Linked DNA regions of Homo sapiens: regions 1, 3 and 4 are each linked to region 2. Evidence: fine-mapped expression QTL. A gene starts in region 2. Each other region holds a variant in brackets. All regions are shown on one strand. Distances are from middle to middle.

The links.
Region 1: its variant is fine-mapped to the expression of TMEM255A in lung (TOPMed, PIP 0.99).
Region 3: its variant is fine-mapped to the expression of TMEM255A in whole blood (TOPMed, PIP 0.97).
Region 4: its variant is fine-mapped to the expression of TMEM255A in whole blood (TOPMed, PIP above 0.99).

Annotation. Positions count from the first base shown.
Region 1 is chrX:120,269,991-120,272,677 of GRCh38, forward strand. All of the region lies in intron 7 of TMEM255A (transmembrane protein 255A), which reads right to left. It also overlaps the pseudogene PFDN4P3. Among named protein-coding and RNA genes, the nearest start is that of ZBTB33, 21 kb to the left of the region's middle. The variant G/A (reference allele first, on the strand shown) is at 1,316.
Region 2 is chrX:120,310,022-120,312,708 of GRCh38, forward strand. It overlaps TMEM255A (transmembrane protein 255A), which reads right to left and starts at 1,440. Exons shown (of 9, transcript NM_001104544.3): 1 at 1,231-1,440. The coding sequence starts at 1,288.
Region 3 is chrX:120,334,730-120,337,416 of GRCh38, forward strand. No RefSeq gene overlaps it. Among named protein-coding and RNA genes, the nearest start is that of TMEM255A, 25 kb to the left of the region's middle. The variant T/C (reference allele first, on the strand shown) is at 1,599.
Region 4 is chrX:120,346,508-120,349,194 of GRCh38, forward strand. No RefSeq gene overlaps it. Among named protein-coding and RNA genes, the nearest start is that of ATP1B4, 14 kb to the right of the region's middle. The variant C/T (reference allele first, on the strand shown) is at 1,215.

The sequences.
Region 1 (2,687 bases), 40 kb before region 2:
CAATATTTGAAAGGAAGTTGACTATTTAGAGAAGGCAGCACAGAAGAAACATGAGAGTAAGATTAAATGGGTATAGGAAAGTCTCTGAAGAGAAGACAGTCAGGGGTAGAGGATATAGAGAAAATGGACAAGCCAGCAAGAGAAGGAAGAAGAGGAAATGGGGAATGGAGTGAAGACTTAGTCAGGGATGGGGCAAAAGAGATGGGCCAAAATAGTGGTCTGGTTATATTTTAAATCAATAAATCTGATTTTACAATAAATTTGGGCCCTGTTTCTATTTGTGTGCACGTATAGGAGTGTGTGTTTGTGTGTGTGTGTGTGTATGTGTATTTCTGTTAGAATTCTGGGGCTTACGTTGTGAGACGCCCGCCCTGCCCCCCCATTATTGATCAGTAGCATTCCGAGCTCCAGTAACACAAAAGGTTACTAGGTAGCACAGCAAATGGTGAAAGCAATCTTGCCTGGACAAAACTGAGTCTATTCTGAGACAATGATTGTGGACTTTGGAAAGAATGCTACTTTTTTTCCCTCTCCAGTTTACTCTAAACCAGCGATACCAATTAGGAGAAAATGGAAAGATATATTCACTTTTTAAAAATTCATCTCAAATCCTCATATCTTTGGTCAACAAGCACTTCTTCAAACATTTCTTTAAGATCTTTTTCACCAAGCACCTCTTGTCAGGGTTCCTTTCAGGATCCCACAACTTTGGAAATGGTGGTTCCTAGCTGATTCCATTGAAGACTGCCAGCTCACAGCCCTCGGCTCCTGTCCTCACTCTCTGCAAACGGCTTTCATCAGCCAGCACCCCCGGGCCTCCCTGCAGACCCCGGGGACTCTACTCAGGGAGAGGCACATCACAAGTCACCAACCACACTTGGATGTAGGCCAAGGATTGTACTTAGGCTCACCTGAATGATGTTCCTGGACTTTTTACACCATGGTCTTATTTTAATAGAGTGATCTAGGCAATGATTCCTCCTTGGTATCCTTATCTGTGCCCCCACTGGTTCTCTAATCTCATGAATCAAAGATCTTCTCCCCAGATCTTTGCTTTCATTTTTTTTCTGCCCTGGTCCTTGATAGAGTTCCCGGGATTCACATTTGATAATGCTCGGTACTTCCCTTGCTCTCCTTCCGTACTGTCAAAGAAGCTCCCAACAGGTGGAAACAACTTGCTTTTAATTTTTTAATTAAATCAACTAAACAAAGGAGGTAATATATGTTAAAACACTCATAGAACCAGAAAGGGCTACCCAAATGTTAGTCAGGGGCAGCTGGGATGAAATAGAAAGAGCAAAGGCTCTGGCATTTG[G/A]CAAATCTGGGCTCCAGTCCCAGTTCTGCTACTCAGCTCTGGGCAAGTCACTTGACCCCTCTTGGCCTGTTTCCTCACCTGTTAAACAGAGACAGTAATACCTACCTCACAAAGTAGTAATAGTGAAGATTAACTGTGCAAAAGCACTTTGCAGAGGGTTAGGGGCCATTATTGCCGCTATCAAGACAGACCATCAGCAAACCCATTTTTTCCTCAGGAGATCAAAGATAACAGTGAAATTAAGAACGCAGAAACAAATCTATATATCTGCAGTTAATTGATTTTTGACAAGGTTGCTAGGATCATAAAGTAGGGAAAGAGCAGTGTCTTCAACAGATGTGCTGGGAAAACTGGATATCCACATGAAAAAGAATGAAACTGAGCCCCTAACTTATACTAGATATAAAAATTAAATCAAAATGTTTCAAAGCCCTAAATGTAACAGCTAAAACTATAAAATTCTTAGGCAAAAATGTGGAAATCATGACCTTGAGCTTGGCAATAGATTCTTAGATATAACACTAAAAGCACAAGCAACAAAAGAAAAGATAGATAAATGACACTTCATCAAAATTAAAAACTTTTGTGCTTCAAAGGCCATTATCAAGAAAGTGAAAAGACAACTCACAGCATGGGAGGAAGTACTTGCAAATCACATATTTGATAATGCTCTAGTATCCGCTATTTATAAAGAACTCTTACAACTCAACAACAACAAAACAGATTTAAAAATGGGCAGGATTCTTGGTCAGTGGCCAGGTCTCAGCTATAGCAGGGGAGTGGAGGGTGTGGGATGCTGGGGGTGCCCAGCTCTGAAGCTCAGTGTGGGGCCCAAGACTGAGGCCCCCAGCCCTTACAGCTGCTCTGTGGGGAGCCCTGTCTGCACCTAGGGCCCTGAGCATTTGCTTAGTCACCTGGCTTGTTGAGGCAGGGGGTCCCCAGGCCGGAATCCATGGAGGGCTCTGGGCACCTCTCTCAGTACTGAGGGTGCCTCTGGGGAGCATGAGGACCCTGCAGCCCAGGCCTTGTCCTTAGGGTATGGGAAACTGAAGGTCCCATTGACTGAGGTTGGCTTTTACGCACTTGATGCACTGATACGGTTTGGATTTGTGTCCCCACCCAAGTCTCCTCTTGAACTGTAATCCCTGTAATCCCCAGGTGTTGAGGGAGAGACCTGGTGGGAGGTGATTGAATCGTGGGGGTGGTTCCTCCATGCTGCTGTTCTGATGATAGTGAATGAGTTCTCACGAGATCTGATGCTTTTATAAGGGGCTCTTCCCCCTTTGCTTCCTTCACATGCACTCTCACCTGTTGCCATGTAAGATGTGCCTGCTTCTCCTTCTGCCATGATTGTAAGTTTCCTGAGGCCTTC
Region 2 (2,687 bases):
GGGCAGTAGGGAGATTATATAGGGGGTTCGATCTTCTCCCTGCCCCCTCCACTCGAGATGTTCCCGCAAATTCATCGGAGAAGACCTGAGCAGACTGATGGCAGGAACTGCGGGACAGAGGGATTTTGCAGAATGTAAAGTATGTTGGAAAGAGAGAATTCGATTTGATTGAAGTGTATCCGAGGCGAATTTTAAAAGATTAGGTGGGATCATGATTTTACAATCCCCTCCCGCTCTCCAGGGCTCCAAATTAATTTCTCCGCCCAGTGAAATCACAGGGCTTGGGAAGGTGCCTAACAGCTGAGGGGGACTGGGTTTGTTTTTTTTTGTAACTACCAAAAAGCAGCTTCGAGGGGCAGCCAAGTTGGTGCCCGAAGGTAGCTGTCCCCCAGTTTCTATAAGGAAAGGAGTCGAAGGGTGCCCCTCCCCCTCCATTCCGCCCTGCGAGGAAAAGCGCGACTTCAGAAGATGCGCGGGCTCGCGCTGGATGTTTCTTTCTCGCGCTCTCACTCCTGCCCCTGACTCCCTTTTCACACTCATGCACATTCCGTGCATTTGGAGCAGAGTAACAATCAAATTCAAAGAATGTTGATCCCGCCGCTGCAGAGGGCAGGGCTGGGCTGTCTTGAGTGATTCCTCAGGAATTCCCCTCCCCTCATCCCCCCCTTTCTTCTCACCCCCGCCCATCCCCCAGAGTTGCGCAACCCGCCCCCCCCCCCCAATCAGCGAGGTGCAAGTCAGGCCCCCACCCAACTGCATCTCTAAATTTCAGGGCAGCTTCAAGAGAGTTGGGAGGGGGCGAGGACCCTGCTTCTAATTGTCGTTAGTCGTGAGCTCTTAGAAGTGACCAGGACTTTGCAAAGAGGGAGTGTCGAATGGAAAGCGAAGGCGCAGGTTGCAGGGAAGTGTTTTGATCCTCAGATTGCTGGGATTTACCACCGACTGCAAGTCTGTAGACACACGCACACAAACAGGCACACACCCGCACTCCGGGGCAGAGATACTCCGACGCAAGCTTGGCGCTCCGATCTCCGCACGTCGCTCCCGCTGCAGCCAGGCCGCTCCCCTGGGACTCTGGTCCACCACCCAGACGCTGGGGCGCGAAGACCACCCCATCCATGCCCCGTTTCCCGCTCTCCGGCTTTTGGGGCAGCTGGGGCGTTCACAGTCCAGAGGCCAGGGCACTCAACCCCTGCTGCCGCCGCCCGAAGGAAGGGCCGCTAGACTTACCCATGGAATCGGGCAGGGACATGTCGCTGGACCGCTGCTGAGTCAGGGACTGATGCATGGTGAAAACTGCCCGGTTGCCCCAGTCCCCGAAGCTGCTTCAAGCGCCCCCGGCTCTGGGCGCCCCGCAGAGCATCCTACTCCGCGGTTGCCTCTCTCGGTCCTTCCGAGAGCTGAGAGACACTGCCTCTGGTTGCGAGCTGCAGCCCAAGTGCCGCCTCCCCCTCCCTTCCACTCTTCTCCCTCCCTCCTCTTCTGCCTCCCTCTGCTCTGGGAGGCAGCAGCATTGGCGGTCCGTGCAGCCGCGTGCGCTTGCGCAAGACCCCCCCCCTCCTCCCTCCCCCTCAGTCTCCCCATCCTAGTTATCCACCTCCCAGCCTTCCAAGCCAGACAGGGAGCAGTTTTAGCCCCTTGGGGCCAGGGCTGCGCAGAGAAAGAGGGGGAGGCTTCAGTATGAAGCCAACCAACCTTCTCTATAGTTGGACAGGGTCTTGGGTAATTATCCTGTTCTAGGATTTATAACTGGGGAGGGGGTCAGAGTCAGAGGTTCAGAGCTGAGGAACACACACACACACACACACACACACACACACACTTGAGCAGGTCTGGTCTTAGTGCTTCCAGAATGACATAATGGAGCTGGAGATGATCCAGAGAAGGGCCACTCTATAATCAAAGGGATGGTGTGTGTGGGGCGGGGGGAGGGTGGTGGCTGACATATGAAGATAGATTAAACAAACGCAGACTCTTTAGTCTAGAACGATGAAGGCTGGGAAGTGATGTGACCAGAGTGTATAAAATTATGCAGAGACGGAGAGAAGGAGCACAGCCTTATTCACCAGACCTGAGAATTCTAGAACCAACAGCCCCCAATCTTTAGCTAGAAAATTCAGCTAAAGTATAACTCTGCACCAGAACCCCAGTTTGTACTGTTCAAGTGCTTTTATAACAAGGATCTCATTTTATCATCATAGCAGCCATGCAAGGGAGGAAGAGGAGTTATCAATAACCCCATTATGCAGAGGAGGAAACTGAATCTCAGAGAAGGGAAGAAAATATCCTGTGCCCACTCAGCTAGTAAGTGGCAGAAGTGAGAGCTAGAACCTAGATCTGTTGGACTCCAAGGTGAGTGTTCTTGCTATGGCGACTGAAAAGAACTATTATTCTCTATAGCAAATGGAAAACCTAAGGAATTCATTAGCTCCAAAAGATGCAGCAAGATGAAAATGCAAGTAGCTTTGGAAAGAGTGAAAGTAAAGTCATGGCTGACAGATCCACTGTGGATTACTAAGGGAAACTGGGGATGAGGTGGGAATGTCATTGATCTTGGAAGACAGCCAAATCCTTCTCGAACCTATCCTTTTGGACCCCATTAGGATATTGGGCTTGAAGCACCTTGTGGTTGGACCAAAAGGTGGTTTGAATGTTCTCAAAACAACTGCAGATCAGGATGAGGCCTC
Region 3 (2,687 bases), 25 kb after region 2:
TTCTGCTCCTACTGATAAGGTCCCCTAGCCAAAAAGCTCTCCTTATCACAGGGATCAGACACAGTTGTTATTTATCACTGAGTAGCAGGCCTCAGTCCCTGCCAGCCCATGTCATTATTCAAATGAGCCAATCACATTCTTCTGTGGGAACCAAGGATCACCTTATCCTCTTGATATTACAAAGTCTGCCTCCCACAGACCCTGCTTGTTCACTCTGGTCCCAAACACAAGCGCCTTGTGGTCTTGCATGGCATGTGTCTTCCTCCCCTGGGTCGTGGGTATATGTGACTAAAAAACTGCTGTTGATCTCATTTGTTCAGTGTCAGGTGTCTTCAGCCATCTCCATAACCCTAGGTTGGAGATCCATCCTTCACCAATGGGGTAAAGAAGTGATTATCAAAACAAAGAGTAACAAAGAAAAAATACACTGATATTGTCTTTTATATTTACTATGTAGTTAAATTTACTGGTTTATTTGCTTTTTCATGTAGATTCGAGTTGCTATCGCCTGCTTTTTCACTGTGGCCAGAAAACCCCCACTTTAGGATTTCTTGTAGGCACGTCTGCCAGCAACACTCTCAGTTTTTGTTTATCTGAGAATGTCTTAATTTCTTTTTCATTTTTAAAGAGTTGATTTGCTGGCTGTAGAATTCTTAGTTGACAATACTTTTATTTCAGCACTTTTAGTATGTCATCTTACTGCCTTCTGGTGTCCATGGTTTCTGATGAGAAATTAGCTGTTAATCTTGTTGAGTAACCCTTCTATCTAATGAGTCACTTCTCTCTTGCTGCTTTCAAGATTGTCATTTGACAGTTTGATTATAACGTGTCTATATGTGGACTTTTTTTTTTTTTTTGGACAGTCTTGCTCTGTCACCCAGGCTGGAGTGCAAAGGTGTGATCTCAGCTCATTGCAAGCTCTGCCTCCTGGGTTCACACCCTTCTCCTGCCTCAGCCTCCCGAGTAGCTGGGACTACAGGTGCCTGCCACCACACCCGGCTAATTTTTTGTATTTTTTAGTAGAGATGGTGTTTCACCATGTTAGCCAGGATGATCTTGATCTCCTGATCTCGTGATCCGCCCACCTTGGCCTCCCAAAGTGCTGGGATTACAGGCATGAGTCACCGTGCCTGGCTAGATGTGGATCTTTTTAAGTTTATACTACTTGGAGTTCTTTTTGTTTTTTGAATGTGTAGATTCTTGTTTTTAGTGAAATTCAGAAAGCTTTCTGTCATTATTTCTTCAAATATACGTTTTCTGCTATTCTCTCTCTCCTCTCTTTCTGGGTCTCCTATCATGTCTATGTTGGTATGCTTGGTCATGTTCAACAGCTCTATGAGTCTCTATGCATTTTTCTTTATTTTTTCTTTTTGCCCTTCAGATTCAATACTCTCAATTAACGTATCTTTAAATTCACTAATTCTTTCTTTGATTGGCTCAATTCTGCTGTCACATTCCTCTAGTGACTTTTTCATTTGTGTTTTTGTACTTTTTGACTCCACACTTTCCTTTTCATTATTTTTATAATTTCTATTTCTTCATTGATAATCCCTATTTGTTGAGACATCATTATTATACTTTCCTTTAGTTCTGTAGAT[T/C]TGGATTCCTTTATTTGAGCATATTTAAATCATCTCACATAAAGTTTTTTGTGTAGTAATTGTGATGTCTGGGCTTTCTCAGGGACAATTCTTATCGACTGCCTTTTCCTACTGCCACCTTCCCCTGACACACCCACACCATTATGGTCCATACTTTCTTATTTTTCTTTGTATTTCTCAATTTTTTTTGAAAACTGAATATTTTAAATAATGCAATGTGGCAATTCTGGAAATAAGATTCTCTCTTAATTCCAGGGCATGTTTTTGTTGCCATTTGTTTTTATTACTGTTGCTGTTTAATAATTTTACTGAAGTGATCTGTAAAGTTTATATTTTTGTCATGTGTGATCACTGATGTCTCTGCTTGATTAGCTTGGTGGTCAGCTAATGATGAGACAGATATCTCCTGAAGTGCCTAAAACCAATAAGGCTTCCACTCTTTATTAAGGGCTCTGTGTTTATTTGGAGGCATTTGGCACTTGGCCAGTTGATTTGAAACTTTGTCGTGGCTTTCATCTCCTCCTCATGTGGGGCCTCAAAGTCAGTCAGGAATGACAGCTTTGGACATTCTCAGGTCTTTTCTGAACATGTTCACAGCCCTGGGAATGGGAAATCCTATGCATATGTATTCCCTCCTAGGTTCTTGAGAATTTGTCAGAGCTTGTCAAAGCCCCTGTGGAGTTTTAATTTCCCCATTTTTTATTTTAAGCTTTTTGGTCAGTCTACAATGTTTGCCCTAACTGTTATCCACTTCAACAGCAGGCAGCCATGATGTTAAACAATTGCCACTTATTGTTTTCAACAAATATCTTCAATGAAAGGCTTTTCACACTGAACAAGCTCTGAGTCAGGTAAAATAAAGACAAACTTTGTGAGTAGAGTCTTCCAGGGAACTATCATATGGGTCAAGTAATGACAATTACATGAGTATAGAGCTTTGAAGGAGCTCTAACTCCATTCTTCCTCCTCTAGTGACTTACAAGCTCCTGATTTTCCACATTATTGTGTGATATGTTTTCAAGGCTACTGCAGAGCTGGAGAGAAGGGGATGGGCATAGAACAAGTTAAAACATTGTAGAGCTTGTTGTT
Region 4 (2,687 bases), 36 kb after region 2:
GACACACATAGGCTCAAAATAAAGGGATGGAGGAAGATCTACCAAGCAAATGGAAAACAAAAAAAGAAAAGCAGGGGTTGCAATCCTAGTCTTTGATAAAACAGACTTTAAACCAACAAAGATCAAAAGAGACAAAGAAGGCCATTACATAATGGTAAAGGGATCAATTCAACAAGAAGAGCTAACTATCCTAAATATATATGCACCCAATACAGGAGCACCCAGATTCATAAAGCAAGTCCTCAGAGACCTACAAAGAGACTTAGACTCCCACACAATAATAATGGGAGACTTTAACACCCCACTGTCAACATGAGACAGATCAACGAGACAGAAAGTTAACAGGGATATCCAGGAATTGAACTCAGCTCTGCACCAAGTGGACCTAATAGACATCTACAGAACTCTCCACCCCAAATCAACAGAATATACATTCTTCTCAGCACCACACCACACTTATTCCAAAATTGACCACATAGTTGGAAGTAAAGCACTCCTCAGCAAATGTAAAAGAACAGAAATTATAACAAACTGTCTCTCAGACCACAATGCAATCAAACTAGAACTCAGGATTAAGAAACTCACTCAAAACCACACAACTACATGGAAACTGAACAACCTGCTCCTGAGTGACTACTGGGTACATAATGAAATGAAGGCAGAAATAAAGATGTTCTTTGAAACCAATGAGAACAAAGACACAACATACCAGAATCTCTGGGACACATTCAAAGCAGTGTGTAAAGGGAAATTTATAGCACTAAATGTCCACAAGAGAAAGCAGGAAAGATCTAAAATCGACACCCTAACAGCACAATTAAAAGAACTAGAGAAGCAAGAGCAAACACATTCAAAAGCTAGCAGAAGGCAAGAAATAACTAAGATCAGAGCAGAACTGAAGGAGATAGAGACACAAAAAACCCTTCAAAAAATCAATGAATCCAGGAGCTGGTTTTTTGAAAAGATCAACAAAATTGATAGACCGCTAGCAAGACTAATAAAGAAGAAAAGAGAGAAGAATCAAATAGACGCAATAAAATATGATAAAGGGGATATCACCACCGATCCCTCAGAAATACAAACTACCATCAGAGAATACTATAAACACCTCTACGCAAATGAACTAGAAAATCTAGAAGAAATGGATAAATTCCTTGACACATACACCCTCCCAAGACTAAACCAGGAAGAAGTTGAATCTCTGAATAGACCAA[C/T]AACAGACTCTGAAATTGAGGCAATAATTAATAGCTTACCAACCAAAAAAAGTCCAGGACCAGATGGATTCATGGCCGAAATCTACCAGAGGTACAAGGAGGAGCTGGTACCATTCCTTCTGAAACTATTCCAATCAATAGAAAAAGAGGGAATCCTCCCTAACTCAGTTGATGAGGCCAGCATCATCCTGATACCAAAGCCTGGCAGAGACACAACAAAAATAGAGAATTTTACACCAATATCCCTGATGAACATCTATGCAAAAATCCTCAATAAAATACTGGCAAACCAAATCCAGCAGCACATCAAAAAGCTTATCCACCAAGATCAAGTGGGCTTCATCCCTGGGATGCAAGGCTGGTTCAACATGCACAAATCAATAAATGTAATCCAGCATACAAACAGAACCAAAGACAAAAACCATATGATTATCTCAATAGATGCAGAAAAGGCCTTTGACAAAATTCAACAACCCTTCATGCTAAAAACTCTCAATAAATTAGGTATTGATGGGACGTATCTCAAAATAATAAGAGCTGTCTATGACAAACCCACAGCCAATATCACACTGAATGGGCAAAAACTGGAAGCATTCCCTTTGAAAACTGGCACAAGACAGGGATGCCCTCTCTCACCACTCCTATGCAACATAGTGTTGGAAGTTCTGGCCAGGGCAATCAGGCAGGAGAAGGAAATAAAGGGTATTCAATTAGGAAAAGAGGAAGTCAAATTGTCCCTCTTTGCAGATGACATGATTATATATCTAGAAAACCCCATCGTCTCAGCCCAAAATCTCCTTAAACTGATAAGCAACTTCAGCAAAGTCTCAGGATACAAAATCAATGTGCAAAAATCACAGGCATTCTTATACAACAATAACAGACAAACAGAGAGCCAAATCATGAGTGAACTCCCATTCAGAATTGCTTCAAAGAGAATAAAATACCTAGGAATCCAACTTACAAGGGATGTGAAGGACCTCTTCAAGGAGAACTACAAATCACTGCTCAATGAAATAAAAGAGGATACAAACAAATGGAAGAACATTCCATGCTCATGGATAGGAAGAATCAATATCGTGAAAATGGCCATACTGCCCAAGGTAATTTATAGATTCAATGCCATCCCCATCAAGCTACCAATGACTTTCTTCACAGAATTGGAAAAAACTACTTTAAAGTTCATATGGAGCCAAAAAAGAGCCCACATTGCCAAGTCAATCCTAAGCCCAAAGAACAAAGCTGGAGGCATCACGCTACCTGACTTCAAACTATGCTACAAGGCTACAGTAACCAAAACAGCATGGTACTGGTACCAAAACAGACATATAGACCAATGGAACAGAACAGAGTCCTCAGAAATAATGCCATATATCTACAACCATCTGATCTTTGACAAACCTGACAAAAACAAGCAATGGGGAAACAAGTCACTATTTAATAAATGGTGCTGGGAAAACTGGCTAGCCATAT